2 separate regions of the Homo sapiens genome follow, and region 2 is linked to region 1. The links come from fine-mapping of genetic effects on gene expression. A gene starts in region 1. The other region holds a variant in brackets. All regions are shown on one strand. Distances are between the middles of the regions.

What was found. PIP is the estimated chance that this variant, and not a neighbour inherited with it, causes the effect. A credible set is the group of variants that fine-mapping cannot tell apart.
Region 2: its variant is the best candidate, but not a certain one, in a credible set for the expression of ITPKC in whole blood (INTERVAL, PIP 0.58).

What each region holds. Positions count from the first base shown.
Region 1 is chr19:40,715,748-40,718,654 of GRCh38, forward strand. ITPKC (inositol-trisphosphate 3-kinase C) reads left to right here and starts at 1,365. Exons shown (of 7, transcript NM_025194.3): 1 at 1,365-2,543. The coding sequence starts at 1,389. COQ8B (coenzyme Q8B) reads right to left here and starts at 1,139. Exons shown (of 15, transcript NM_024876.4): 1 at 840-1,139. RefSeq lists an enhancer at 606-685 and a silencer at 1,256-1,615.
Region 2 is chr19:40,650,867-40,653,773 of GRCh38, forward strand. No RefSeq gene overlaps it. Among named protein-coding and RNA genes, the nearest start is that of NUMBL, 38 kb to the right of the region's middle. RefSeq lists an enhancer at 1,372-1,421. The variant C/A (reference allele first, on the strand shown) is at 1,320.

The sequences.
Region 1 (2,907 bases):
CCTGACATTTCCCAGAACACACTCAGCCAAGATTCCCAGTGCTGAGTCAGGAACCTTGGCATCCCAGAAAACCACCTCCCATCCTATCTTTCTTTCTCTGTGTGTGTGTGTGTGTGTGTGTGTGCGCGCGCGCGTTGGAAAGCCTGCTCTCCCCACAACAGGCTGACTCACCCACTTCTCACAGTCTGGAATAGAGGCATCTGGTTGGGGCATCTTTCCCACCACTGGGAGAGGGAGGGATGCCGATGCTTCCCCCACAGAACCCCGCTGCCCCAACCCCTCTTGTCGGGAATCAGGCCTCTTTGTCTCTATTCCCGTACTGTGTGACCTCAGAAAAGCCCTCATCCCTCTCTGGACTTCTCCTTCCCAACCTGTATGAGGTACTAGGTGGGCTCCTGCCTTCGATTTCTCTCATTGGTCTGTGAAAAGGTGACTCATTTTAGAGCCTTGGACCTGTGCCCAATGTCTCCCCCAGTTGACTCAATTTCAAGACAAACCACCTCCTCTCCCCCTTCAGAGGTGAACGGCTGACTCAGGAGCTGGGTGGCAGCTCAGCCTTGGGGGCAAAATATATCAAAATCACCTAGGACAATAAATAATCCTACTGGGCTACAACTGACAGTGCCAGGCCCGGGGCCACATGCTTCACATACATGAGATCATGTCAGATAGCCCCGTAGCTGCAAGCAAAGGGTAGAGGCCGGCAGATCTCTGAGCCTCTGTTCTCACGTGTAAAATGGAGCCCTGGCATCCCTATTGTTCAGCCTTGGAGAATGAACTGAAATCGTGTCAGGGTCTGATACAGAACAAGTACTCTATACATGACAGAGATTTCTTACGGAAAATCCAATGGAGCGTAAGTCATTTGCTCAGGGTAGCGGAGCTGGGAACTGGCAGAGGAAGGTCTCGAACCCACACCCGTGGGAACTCCAAGTCTTTGAAAGTCCGTCCCGCCCCTGCGTGAAGAATGGGCGCGCGGCTGGACTCGTCACCGGGGGTTTTAGGGAAGGTTGAACTTGTCATTCAACCGTGTAGGGAGGGTGGTTTAGTCACAGGGGTGGAGGGAGGGGGCCCACTGGCGCGCCACCAGGACCCCGGTGCCCTAGATGCATACCTGGCCGCGCTTCGGATGCTCAGAGGCAAACCCCCTCCCCTTGGGAGGCGGAGTCGGACAAGGCTCCGTCTCGTTCCGTTCCGTCACGTCCGGTGGGGCGGGGCTTCGGGGCTTTCCCCTTTGAGGGGAGTATCGGTTAACCCTTGCGCGGCGGGGCGGGCTGGAGCTCCGCGGGCCGGAACCCGGGAGTCGGGGCTCCCCAGCCACACCCCTCGCGGGATTTAAAGGGATAGGAGGGGCCGGGTCGGCCGAAGCCCGAACCGAAGGAGCGGGCATGAGGCGCTGCCCGTGCCGTGGGAGCCTGAACGAGGCGGAGGCCGGGGCGCTGCCCGCGGCGGCCCGCATGGGACTGGAGGCGCCGCGAGGAGGGCGGCGGCGGCAGCCGGGACAGCAGCGACCTGGGCCCGGCGCAGGGGCCCCGGCGGGGCGGCCGGAGGGGGGCGGGCCCTGGGCCCGGACAGAGGGGTCCAGCCTCCACAGCGAGCCTGAGAGGGCCGGCCTCGGGCCTGCGCCGGGGACAGAGAGTCCGCAGGCAGAATTCTGGACAGACGGACAGACTGAGCCCGCGGCAGCTGGCCTTGGAGTAGAGACCGAGAGGCCCAAGCAAAAGACGGAGCCAGACAGGTCCAGCCTCCGGACGCATCTAGAATGGAGCTGGTCAGAGCTGGAGACGACTTGTCTTTGGACGGAGACCGGGACAGATGGCCTTTGGACTGATCCGCACAGGTCCGACCTCCAGTTTCAGCCCGAGGAGGCCAGCCCCTGGACACAGCCAGGGGTTCATGGGCCCTGGACAGAGCTGGAAACGCATGGGTCACAGACTCAGCCAGAGAGGGTCAAGTCCTGGGCTGATAACCTCTGGACCCACCAGAACAGTTCCAGCCTCCAGACTCACCCAGAAGGAGCCTGTCCCTCAAAAGAGCCAAGTGCTGATGGCTCCTGGAAAGAATTGTATACTGATGGCTCCAGGACACAACAGGATATTGAAGGTCCCTGGACAGAGCCATATACTGATGGCTCCCAGAAAAAACAGGATACTGAAGCAGCCAGGAAACAGCCTGGCACTGGTGGTTTCCAAATACAACAGGATACTGATGGCTCCTGGACACAACCTAGCACTGACGGTTCCCAGACAGCACCTGGGACAGACTGCCTCTTGGGAGAGCCTGAGGATGGCCCATTAGAGGAACCAGAGCCTGGAGAATTGCTGACTCACCTGTACTCTCACCTGAAGTGTAGCCCCCTGTGCCCTGTGCCCCGCCTCATCATTACCCCTGAGACCCCTGAGCCTGAGGCCCAGCCAGTGGGACCCCCCTCCCGGGTTGAGGGGGGCAGCGGCGGCTTCTCCTCTGCCTCTTCTTTCGACGAGTCTGAGGATGACGTGGTGGCCGGGGGCGGAGGTGCCAGCGATCCCGAGGACAGGTCTGGGGTGAGTGGGACCCATCCTGCCCTTGAGCCACATCACGCAAAACTCCTTATTCCTCCGCCTTTGCTTAGGAAGTTCTCTACCCATTTACTGTTAGTTGCCCACCAGCAATTTCATCTCCGGGAACCTCTTCCATCCACTGACCTCCTCCCTCTGACAGCCAGGTTACTAATTCACTCCAGGCACCCCTTCTTAATTCTCTCCTTTCCCCTTCCTGCACTGTCTCCACTCCTGGGGGTCTACAATGGAGGGCCACTGACCGACTTTATGGGGCCCAGGAACCCCTGAAATTGTAGGACTAAGGAGCCTGCCGTGCGTGTTCACATACATTGTTGCAGCGACGGTCTGACATCTGTCTAATCCTCTG
Region 2 (2,907 bases), 65 kb before region 1:
AAACAACAACAGTCATCCTATTATTTTTCACTGTGTCTGTGGTCAGAGTTTTGGGAAGGACCCAACTGGGCAGTTCTGACTTGGAATTTCATATGGTTGCAGTCACTTGGCAGCTGAAACTGGAACAGGGAAGCAGCTGGGGGTGGATGGATCTCTCTCTCTCTCTCTTTCTCTTACTCTCTCCCCACTCCATGTTGTCTCAGGGCTTCTCAATGTGGTCTCTCCACGCGAACTGGTTTGGGCTCCCTCACATCATGACAGCCTCTGGGCAGTTGGACTTACATGGCAGCTTCGGCATCCAGTACAAGTGTTTTATGAAAGTAGCAGCCGCGACTGGGTGCGGTTGCTCACGCCTGTAATCCCAACACTTTGGGAGCTTGAGGCAGGTGGATCACCTGAGGTCGGGAGTCCAAGACCAGCCTGGAAAACATGGTGAAATCCCGTCTCTACTAAAAATACAAAAATTAGCTGGGCATGGTAGCACGGGCCTGCGGTCCCAGCTACTCAGGAGGCTGAGGCAGGAGAATCGCTTGAACCTGGGAGGCGGAGGTTGCAGTGAGCCGAGATCACGCCACTGCACTCCAGCCTGGGCGACAGAGTGAGACTCCATCGAAATGAAAGAAAGAAAGAGAAAGAGAGAAAGAGAGAAAGAAAGAAGGAAGGAAAGAAAGAAAGAGAGAGAAAGAAAGAAAGGAGGGAAGGAGGGAGGGAAGGAGGGAAGGAAGGAAGGAAGGAAGGAAAGAAGGAAAGGAAGGGGCCTTATCTCTTCTGATCTAGCCTTGGAATCATGCAGCATTACTTCTGCCACATAGTCTTGGTTACAAGCAAGTCACAAACTGCCTAGATGTAAGGGGAGCTTACACAAATTCCACTTCCCAATGGAAGGGGTATCAAAGTTCTAGAGGAATATATGGGCTGGGAAACATTGTTGCCACCATCTTTGGAAGTTACATCTGGCTTTTACTGGTACTGATTTAAGACCCACCTCTATACAGCCTGTGCCCAATAACATCCACCTGGGCACAGCTCCAACTCCCTGTTCTAAACAGAAATAGTTTATTGAGAAATCTCAATCCCTTGGGATCAAAAACATGACAGTTTCCATTTGTTCTGCAGTGACTGCTCTCTACCTGCTATCTATTGTTTTCCAAGACTATGATCCAAAATCACAGCATCCAAGACTGTGTCTTTTTTATTTATTTATTGTTTTCGAGACAGGGTCTCACTCTGTCGCCCAGACTGTAGTGCAGTGGCGCAATCTCCACTCACCGCAACCTCTGCCTCCCAGGCTCAAGAGATTCTCCTGCCTCAGCCTCCTG[C/A]GTAGCTGGGATTACAGGTGCACACCACTACTGCCTGGCTAATTTTTGAATTTTCAGTAGAGACAGGGTTTCACCATGTTGGCCAGGCTGGTCTTGAACTCCTGACCTCAAATGATCCACCCACCTTGGCCTCACAAAGTGCTGGGATTACAGGCATGAGCCACCACAGCTGGCCCCAAGACTGTGTCTTTATTATTATTATTATTTCGAGACAGAGTCTAGCTCTGTCTCCTAGGCTGGAGTGCAGTGGTGCGATCTCAGCTCACTGAAACCTTCACCTTGCCAGTTCAAGCCATTCTCGTGCCTCAGCCTCCGGAGTAGCTGGGATTACAGGCACGCACCACTACACCCGGCTAATTTTCGTATTTTCAGTAGGGACGGGGTTTCCCCATATTGGCCAGGCTGGTCTTGAACTCCTGACCTCAAGTGATCCACCCACCTCGGCCTCCCAAAGGTGGCTCACAGAAGTGAGCCACCACGCCCGGCCTGTCTATTATTTTTATTTTTAAAAATAAATGTATTGTTAATTTCCTTTTTCCTGTTGGATAAAGGCTACAGGGAAACTTAATGACAATTTTGCTAGAGTCTTTAATATTTCTCTCATTTTCATTCATTTAAAAACATAGCCTTCAGGCCAGGCACGGTGGCTCACACCTATAATCCCAGCACTTTGGGAGGCCGAGGCAGGTGGATCACTTGAGGTCAGGAGTTCAAGACCAGCCTGGCCAACATGGTGAAACCCCGTCTCTACTAAAAATACAAAAATTTAAAAATTAGCCGGGCATAGTGGCATGTGCCTGTAGTCCCAGCTACTCAGGAGGCTGAGGCAGGAGAATCACCTGAACCCAGGAGGTGGAGGTTGCAGTGAGCTGAGATCGCACCACTGCACTCCAGCCTGAGCGACAGAGTGAGACTCGGTCTCAAACAAACAAATACACAAAAAAACCCACAAAGTTCATGGGGAGGGAAAGGTGTAGCCTCTCTTGAGAACTTTCCTCTCTCATTTTCCCCCCAAACAGGATGATGCTTCCTTTCTCTTCTCTATCCTTTTCTGGACAGCCTTGGGTCCTCTCAGTAACTTATTTGGGTAAGTGGCTGGTTATAATGGCAGTGACCTCGAACTTAGGCTCTGGGGTAGTTGGCCACTTTTGTCCTCAGTTTTGGGCAGTAGTAGCAATTCTGGAAGTTCTGGGAAAAATCCAATTTGACATCATAGTACGAACCTGAAGGAAAGGTCTTGATCCCAAAGAGCTCTCGGCAGCTCATGGCTGTGACTGTCATCCAGGGCCTGGGCCTGGGGAAATGTTTGGGGATCTGTGGGATCCTTTAGGGACTGTCACAGTGACTCGGGAAATGTTGCTATAGGCAACTGTTCTGGAACTTTTTGGTCTTAGGACTCTTTTACATTCTTAATAGTATCAAGGACCCCAAACAGCTTTTATTTGTGTGGGTTATAACTTTTTTTTTTTTTTGAGATGGAGTTTCATTCTAGTCGCCCAGGCTGGAGTGCAATAGTGTGATCTTGGCTCACTGCAACCTCTGCCCCACAGGTTCAAGCAATCCTCCCACCTCAGCCTCCCGAGTAGCT